Regions from separate parts of the Homo sapiens genome. Here region 1 is linked to region 2. Evidence: fine-mapped expression QTL. A gene starts in region 2. The other region holds a variant in brackets. All regions are shown on one strand. Distances are between the middles of the regions. Region 1 overlaps ITGAM (integrin subunit alpha M). Region 2 holds the start of PYCARD (PYD and CARD domain containing).

Evidence for each region. PIP is the estimated chance that this variant, and not a neighbour inherited with it, causes the effect.
Region 1: its variant is the best candidate, but not a certain one, in a credible set for the expression of PYCARD in fibroblasts (GTEx, PIP 0.76).

What each region holds. Positions count from the first base shown.
Region 1 is chr16:31,265,993-31,270,372 of GRCh38, forward strand. It overlaps ITGAM (integrin subunit alpha M), which reads left to right. Exons shown (of 30, transcript NM_000632.4): 5 at 38-155. Among named protein-coding and RNA genes, the nearest start is that of ITGAM, 8.2 kb to the left of the region's middle. RefSeq lists an enhancer at 1-261. The variant T/C (reference allele first, on the strand shown) is at 2,223.
Region 2 is chr16:31,200,350-31,204,729 of GRCh38, forward strand. PYCARD (PYD and CARD domain containing) reads right to left here and starts at 2,411. Exons shown (of 3, transcript NM_013258.5): 1 at 2,068-2,411; 2 at 1,798-1,854; 3 at 1,137-1,492. The coding sequence starts at 2,341. The coding sequence ends at 1,236. PYCARD-AS1 (PYCARD antisense RNA 1) reads left to right here and starts at 1,536. Exons shown (of 2, transcript NR_102400.1): 1 at 1,536-1,637; 2 at 2,111-3,103. RefSeq lists enhancers at 1,242-1,872, 2,062-2,291 and a silencer at 2,402-2,761.

The DNA.
Region 1 (4,380 bases), 66 kb after region 2:
GCAGGGGCAGCCCCTTCCACTGGCTCCTGTCCCCTAGGCCTGTGGTCCCACCGTGCACCAGACTTGCAGTGAGAACACGTATGTGAAAGGGCTCTGCTTCCTGTTTGGATCCAACCTACGGCAGCAGCCCCAGAAGTTCCCAGAGGCCCTCCGAGGTGGGTTGCCTTTGGCAGAGGGAACAGATGCGCAGCAAAAGACCAGGGGAGGGGGCAGGACTGAGGTGACGTCTGCTCAAGGTCTGGGCTCTGGGTGCAGAAGAGTGGGGGAACTGGGTCCCATTAGAGTCAGAAGCTAGGGAGGTGCTAGGGTCTTGTACTTTAGGAAAACGCCTTGGCTAGGCACAGTGGCTCATACCTGCAATCCCAAAGCTTTGGGAGCCCAGGAGCTTGAGATCAGCCTGGGCAATGTAGTGAGATCCTGTCTCTAAAAAAAAAAAAAAAAAAAATTAGCTGAGTGTGGTGATGAGCACCTGTAGTCTTAGCTATTTGGAGGCCAAGGTGGGAAGATTGCTTGAGGCCACAAGTTCAAGGCAAGCCTGGGCAACATAGGGAGATCCCCGTCTCTACAAAAAAAAAAAAAAATTAGCCAGGCGTGGTGGCACACACCTGCAGTCCCAGCTACTCAGGAGGATCACTTGAGCCTGGGAAGTTGAAGCTGCAGCAAGTTATGATTGCACCACTGTACTCCAACCTGGGTGACAGAGCAAGACCCTGTCTTTAAAAAATAAGTCCAGGTCACACTGCAGAGGAGGGGATGGTGCAAGGTGTCATTGGCAAGAGGTGGGAATCTTGGGGACCATCCTGGGGGGCGGCCTTCCACACCCCTGTTCCCCAAACCTCTGTTGATTGAGATTCTGAGTGACTGTATGGATTTTTTTTTTTTTTTTTTTTTTTGAGGCAGAGTCTCGCTCTGTCACCCAGGCTGGAGTGCAGTGGCACGATCTTGGCTTACTGCAACCTCTGCCTCCCAGGTTCAAGCGATTCTCCTGCCCCATCTTCCCAAGTAGCTGGGATTACAGGTGCCCGCCACCACACCCGGCTAATTTTTGTATTTTTAGCAGAGACGGGGTTTCACCATGTTGGCCAGGCTGGTCTCGAACTCCTGAGCTCTGGTGATCTGCCCACCTTGGCTTCCCAAAGTGCTGGGAATGAGCCAGGGAATGAGTGGGGGGCATGAGCCACCATGCCTGGCCAGAGTGCGTGGATCTTTCAAGCTGCTTTTTCCCACTGCTTTGTTCGATGGCTATGCCATCTTTTTGCTTGTCTTCATGTTGATTCTGGGACCACAGGCGAATGTTTCTCCCTTGCATTTTTTTTCTTTCTCAAGCCCTGTTCCTCTATATTTCACCCTCCACAGTTAATCCTCCTTCCTCCACAGAGAAAACAAAAGCTTCAGGCATGGACTCCCTCCACTTTCCCCTTCTCTTATTTTATCTTAATAAGCGGTTTTCCAGTCTTCACTGGAATTTGTTGACAAATTCTAAAGGAGCTGTAACACCGCACTTTCTCCTTTTTCTCAAATTTCCATAATGACAGCACTCCTGGCAGTGACTCACTCGTTTTAGAGGAAGACCTGTCTCTCCTCTGTCCCATGACTAAATTCTTCCATATGGGCTTTTGAGAGTCTCTCATGCACCAACTAAGGTGATCACCTATCTTTCTTTTTTCTTTTTTTTTTGGAGACAGGGTCTTGCTCTGTCACCTAAGCTGGAGTGCAGTGGCACAATCTCGGCTCACTGCAGCCTCTGCCTCCTGTGCTCAAGAAATTCTTGTGCCTCCGCCTCCAGAGTAGCTGGGATCACAGGTGCGCATATACTGATTTTTGTATTTTTTGTAGAGATGGGGTTTCACCTTGTTGCCCAGGCTGGTCTCGAATTCCTGGGCTCAAGAGATCTTCCCACCTCAGCCTCCCACAGTGCTGGGATCACAGGTGTGAGCCACTGCGCCTGGCCCAGCATCTCTTGAATCACTTGTTTTCTCTCTAGGACAATTAACTTCCCCCTTCCTCTGGCTGTAAACACTCTTCATTCTATCTGTATCTGAAAAGCAATCAACCACCACAATCGATAGCCATGAAAACAATCTTCTCTCTTCCAGTCTCCTCCTCATCTCCTGCCATCTCTCCTCACCCTCACCACCCAAGCTTCCTGAGTGCATTCTCTTCACCCCCGGCTGGCCTCCAGCTTCCCTCTCCACCTAGGGGCACTGGGTTCTGGGTTCTCT[T/C]TTCACCCACGTGTTCTTCTTTCCTGAAATCACCCAGTTCTGTGGCTTCAGCTAACACTTCTACCTCTCCCTCTTTAGACCTCACTCTCAGGGTTCAAGACTACTTCTTTAAAAAAGTTTTCATTTATTAAAAAATATATAATACATACACTTGGTTCAAAATTCGAAAGGGTGCGGTAGCTCACACCTGTAATTCCAGCACTTTGGGAGGTCAAGGCAGGAGGATTGTTTGAGGCCAGGAGTTTGGGACCAGCCTAGACAACATAATGAGACCCCATCTCTACAAAAAATGCAATTAGCCAGGCATGGTGGCGTGTGCCTGTGGTCTTAGCTATTCAGGAGGCCTCCCAAAGTGCTGGGGTTACAGGCATGAGCCACTGTGCCCTGCCAGTCTTTCTAAAATACAAAACAAATCATCTCACTTCCTTTTCTAAGAACCTTCTGTGGCTCCCCATTGCCTACAGATAAAGTCGAGCTCCTTATTGGAGTAGAAAGGCCCTTGCCCGCTGCTCTTTGCTTGATGCCACCGCTGTGTCTCCATCGCCGTCACATACGTTTGTCCCTGTAGTGCTGTTTCCATCAAACGGCATTCCTGGATTCTGCCAGAATCCTTTTGAGGCCCTTGTCCCATATATCAGTAGGAGTCTCAACTGGGACCAAAAGCACATTCCAGTAATGTAACTGCCCAAGGGGTTCACCTTGCTTGCTGCCTAGACAGAGCCGATTCATCAAGACAGCAGAATTGCGATAGAGAAAGAATAATTCACACAGAGCCAGCTATGCAGGGGACCAGAGTTTTATTATCACTCGAATCAGTCTCCTCGAGCATTTGGGGGCAGAGTTTTTGAGGATAACTTGGTAGGTCGCGGGGGAAGCCAGTGAGCTGGGAGTGCTGATTGATCAGGGATGAAATCATCGGGAGTCGGAGCTGTCTTCTTGCGTTCAGTTGGTTCCTGGGTGGGGGCAGCAAGATCGGATGAACCAGTTTATTGATCTGGGCAGTGCCAGCTGATCCATCAAGTGCAAGGTCTGCAAAATATCTCAAGCACTGATTTTAGGAGCAGTTTAGGGAGGGTCAGAATCTTGTAGCCTCCAGCTGCATGACTCCTAAATCATAATTTCTCATCTTGTGGCTAACGTTAGTCCTACAAAGGCAATCTAGTCCCCAGGTAAGAAGGAGGTCTGCTTTGGGAAAGGGCTGTTACGATCTTTGTTTAAACTATAAACTATAAACTATAAACTAAGTGTCTCCCAAAGTTAGCTCAGCCTACACCCAGGAATGAACACGGACAGCTTGGAGGTTAGAAGCAAGATGGAATCAGTTAAGTTAGATCTCTTTCACTGTCTCAGTCATAATTTTGCAAAGGCGGTTTCAGTAAGATTTATTTACAAAGAGGGGGGTTTATTTATAAAGGGAGTAATTATAAAGCTGTGACAGGCCTAAGGGAGCCATCAGGGACTTTCCAAGCCCTGGGCAAGCAGGTCTGTTGCCACCCCTGGGTTTATGGGTTGAGGAGAGGGAGAGCTCACCAGGGTCTGGAGAGAGTCATGTGGAGCTGGCTTCCTTCTGAGGAACAGTTGGTCTTTTGTGAAGGACATAGCTGTCCCCAAACAACCTCAATGGGAGAACACCCGGACCTCACTGCCCTCCTCCCTCTAGTCTTCTGTTGAGCCCCCTCATCTGCCAAATCCAATGGGAATCCAGAGGGCAACAGAGTCCTGGTGATGGGGTCCCTGCAGGTTGACCTCCCAGGCCACAGAGCTGAGCGGCAATGGGTAGAAAGTGGATTTGGGGATGGGGCAGAAGGCAGAGGAGCACATTCCACATCACTTTATATGTGTGTGCCCTTCCCTTTTCTAGAATCTACTCCTTTTGTATATCTGGCAAATCCTTCCTTCCTTCCTTCCTTCCTTCCTCCTTTGCTTTCCTTTCCTTTCCTTTCCTTTCCTTTCCTTTCCTTTCCTTTCCTTTCCTTTTTTTCTTCCTTTCTTCCTTTTCTTCGAAGTCTTGCTCTGTGACCCAGGCTGGAGTGCAGTGGTGCGATCTCAGCTACTTTTTGTATTTTTAATAGAGATAGGGTTTCACCATGTCAGCCAGGCTGGTCTCAAACTCCTGATCTCAAGTGATCCACCTGCCTCAGCCTCCCAAAGTGCTGGG
Region 2 (4,380 bases):
AAATTAACCGGGTGGGGTGGCAAGCACCTGTAATTCCAGTTACTTGACTGGCTGAGCCACAAGAATTGCTTGAACCTGGGAGGCAGAGGTTGCGGTGAGCTGAGATCATGCTACTGCACTCCAGCCTGGGTGACAGAGTGAGCCTCCGTCTCAAAAAAAAAAAAAGAAAAAAGTGGCCGGGTGCATTGGCTCACGCCTGTAATTCCAGCACCCCAGCACTTTGGGAGGTGGAGGCGGGTGGACCACTTGAGGTCCGAAGTTCCAGACCAGCCTGGCTGACATGGTGAAACTTTGTTTCTACTAAAAACACAAAAACTAGCCAGGTGTGGTGGCAGGGGCCTGTAATCCCAGCTATTCGGGAGGCTGAGGCACAAGAATAGCTTGAACCTGGGAGGTGGAGGTTGCAGTGAGCTGAGGTCACGCCACTGCACTCCAGTCTGGGTGACACAGCGAGATTCCATCTCAAAAAAAAAGTTTTAAATGTTCCTTTCAAATGAATGAATAAGTAATAACCCTCCAAAAAAATCGCATCAAGAAAAGAGGCAGCTACCACACACAACTCATTTCCTGAAAATCTGCTTTGGTGGTTGGCATGTTTTTTGAGCAAAGTGCAACCTATGACCCTTTCCCCCACGGGATGGGGTGGGGCAGAGGGAGCCTTTAAGCCTGTTAAGAGCCAGCACCAGAAGGAGCCCTCGAGCAATTTGGTGACTTGTGCTCTTCTGTCCTATGTTTAGATAATGCTCTAATGTGTCTCCCCCTGCAAATTTCTCTAATTCTGCATTTTTCTCCAGTGGAAAATGTGGAAGGTAGGGGAGCTATGAAGACTAGTGTGTTTCTAAATGGCTTGGACAGAGCTGCCCACCAGTTTGCGCCCTTTGGTACATGCCTCTTTTAACCTTCGGACCTGGGTCACAGGCTGTTATCTATAATGGTAAGGTTAGACCCTTTAGGGAGCACTGGAGGAGCACCACCTGGTGAATGAGGAGGGATATTCCATGGCGATACCAGGAAGGATGGGGGAAGCATTTGGGGTGCCAGAGACCCTAGGGACATGGAGCTGGAGGCTGGGTGGCCTCTGAAGCATAGCTGAGCTCTGCACATGCCAGCAGGCTAGAAGCAGGAAAACACACAAGTTCAAGCTGGCTTTTCGTATATTGTGTATAAAAAGATCAGATTCAGGATGATTTGGTGGGATTGCCAGGGGCTGACCGGAGTGTTGCTGGGAAGGAGCCTCAGCTCCGCTCCAGGTCCTCCACCAGGTAGGACTGGGACTCCCTTAGGGCCTGGAGGAGCAAGTCCTTGCAGGTCCAGTTCCAGGCTGGTGTGAAACTGAAGAGCTTCCGCATCTTGCTTGGGTTGGTGGGCTCGGCCCGCACTGCCTGGTACTGCTCATCCGTCAGGACCTTCCCGTACAGAGCATCCAGCAGCCACTCAACGTTTGTGACCCTCGCGATAAGCGCAGCCCGGTGCTGGTCTATAAAGTGCAGGCCTGGGGGTGGGAGGAGAACATGAGCCAGCAGCCAGGGTGTGGGGCCTGTCCCTGCTGAACTTGAGTTCTTCAGGAATTCCTCTGCAAGCCTAGGGGCAGGGCTCCAGGGGGCGGCCACCAGGACCCCACATGCAGTGGGATGAGGGTAATATTGTCTCCCTTCCCCCGCAGGGTGTGGGTTGGTGGGTGGGGTGCGCAGGGTTGCCAAGCCGTGCCTGCCCTGCCCTGCCCTGCCCTGGTTGCGGGAGCACAGATGCAGGCTGTGCAGGAGTGCGGTGGGGCCGGGCTGGGTGTGGAGGCCTCACCTGGCTTGGCTGCCGACTGAGGAGGGGCCTGGATCCCAGCTGGCGCGGCTCCAGAGCCTGGAAGGATATGGGCCAAGTGATCCCCTTCCCTTCCCTTCCCGCCGTGGGGCCGGGGTCCCGTTGGTCGGTAGGCCAAGCGTGGGGAGCCTCCTTTCCGGTAGAGCAGCTTTGTTTAGGGGTAGGAGGAACAGAAAGCGGAAGAGCCCGCGGGGTAAGCGCTGGTGTGGGTGGAGGGGAAAGACGGGGTGGAGGGGAACGGGGGCGGCTCACCCTGGTGCGTGGCCGCCTGCAGCTGCCCGGCCATCTCCTGCAGGCCCATGTCGCGCAGCACGTTAGCGGTGAGCTCGGCGCCGTAGGTCTCCAGGTAGAAGCTGACCAGCTTGTCGGTGAGGTCCAAGGCGTCCATGGACAGCAGCGCGCCCCGCGGGATGCGCCCGTAGCCCTCGCGCAGCGGCACCGACAGCAGCTTCAGCTTGAACTTCTTGAGCTCCTCGGCGGTCAGGTTCTCCAGCGCATCCAGGATGGCGTCGCGCGCGCGCCCCATGGCTCCAGGATCCCCGGCCGCTGCCGCCGCTCACCCCGCTGCAGCCGCCGACCAGGAGGAAGTCGGCTCCGGGGCGGAACCTGGACTCCCCGCCTTCCTCCCACTCTGGTCTCCCGACTCCCCGCCCCGGTCCGTTGCCCTCCAGCAAAAGGCGCTTCCTTACTACACCCTTGGTCCCCTCCCACCCAGGCCTCTGGATTGGGGCCCCAGGCCGTCGGGGGACGCCAGGATCGCGCCCTCCAGCTGGCCTGCGAGGTGGGACCCGGGAGGGGGCCGCAGAGGGGCTCATGGGTGGCGCCTGCTTGTCTCTGGGCTTGCACCAGCGGGTACAGACCGGAAACCTGGGCTGGCTCTCACTGGGTTTATTGGAGCACCTAGGCTTAGAACCTCGGATTTCTAGAACCCCGAAACCTCCGCGGTTCCCCGAACCTTAGGATCCTCTCCCACATGTCGTAGAATCTTGGAATCATGACAGCTAGAAGCGTGAAGCTCCCTCAATTCCACATACTGGGGAAAAATGAGTTGTACAAAAGGGCAGAGAGTGCAAATCTCTCTGAGCTTCAGTTTCATTTTCTACGACATGGGGATAACCCTCCGGTGCTTATAAATATTCCAGCATAACATGGCCAACCCGATGGCTCCCGAAACCTTGCCAGATGCTTCCTAGGGGAGCCAGAATTTGATCCCAACACTGATTAAAAAAAAGAAAAAAGAAAGAGAGACAGCCTCCAGGAGATTAAAGACCATGAACTTGAAGCCATACAGTTCTTTGTTTGAATCCTGACTCTACTTCCCAAGGGGGATATTTGGAATCCTTTATTTTTCCCTCTCATCTGGGTTGTAACAATCACTGTTCCTTGTAGTCATACGACCCTGACATATTATACGTTTATATGCTTATTGGACATTCATCCCTCTCTAAAATGTGAGGCCTATGAGCATCGGAGACCTTAACTGTCTTATTCTTTGCTGAATTCCTAGCGTCAAGAATGTACCTGGAAATAGCTGTGTGTGGTGGAGGGCGCCTGTAATCCTAGCTACTAGGGCGGCTGAGGCATGAGAATCGCTTGAACCTCGGAGGCAGAGGCTACAGTGAGCCAAGATTGCACCACTGCACTCCAGCCTGGGTGACAGAGCTAGATTCCATCTGAAAAAAAAAAATGTATCTGGAACACATTAGGTGCTGAGTAAAGATTTGCTGAGTGAAGGAATGAATGAGGCTGTGATGCCTGCAGCATGTTGTATTCAAAAGCTTCCAGCATGGCTGGGTGCAGTGGCTCATCACGCATGTCATCTCAGTGCTTTGGGAGGCTGAGGCCGGAGGGTCACTTGAGCCCAGGAGGTTGAGGGTGCAGTGAGCTATGATTGTGCCACTGCACTCTGTGCCACTCGGCAACAGACACCTTGTCTCAAAAACAAACAAGACAACCAGGATGGGCCGGGCACGGTGACTCATGCCTGTAATCCCAGCATTTTGGGAGGGCGAGGTGGGTGATCAGGAGTTTGAGACCAGCCTGGCCAACAGAGTGAAACCCCATCTCTACTAAAAATACAAAAATTAGCCGGGCGTGGTGGCAGGTGCCTGTAATCCCAGCTACTGGGGAGGCTGAGGCAGGAGAATCGCCTGAACCCGTGAGGTGGAGGTTGCAGTGAGCTGAGATCACACCATTGCACTTCAGCCTGGGCAACAAGAGCGAAACTCCATCTCAAAACAGGAACAAAAACAAACAAACAAAAACCACGATGGGGAGCAGTGCTCTGCTACCCTGCTGAAAGCCTTTTTGTTGTTGTTGTTGTTGTTGTTTGTTTTTTCTTTTGAAGACAGGACCTCACTCTGTTGCCCAGGCTGGAGTACACCGGAGGGATTGTGGCTCACTGCAGCCTTGAACTCCTGGGCTCAAGCAATTCTCTCACCTCGGCCTCCTGAGTACCTGCGACTACAGTTGTGCCACCATGCCTGGCTAGTTTTTAAAATTTTTATAGAGAATGGGTTTCCCTATGTTGTTCAGGCTGGTCTCAAAGTCCTGGGCTCAGCAGTC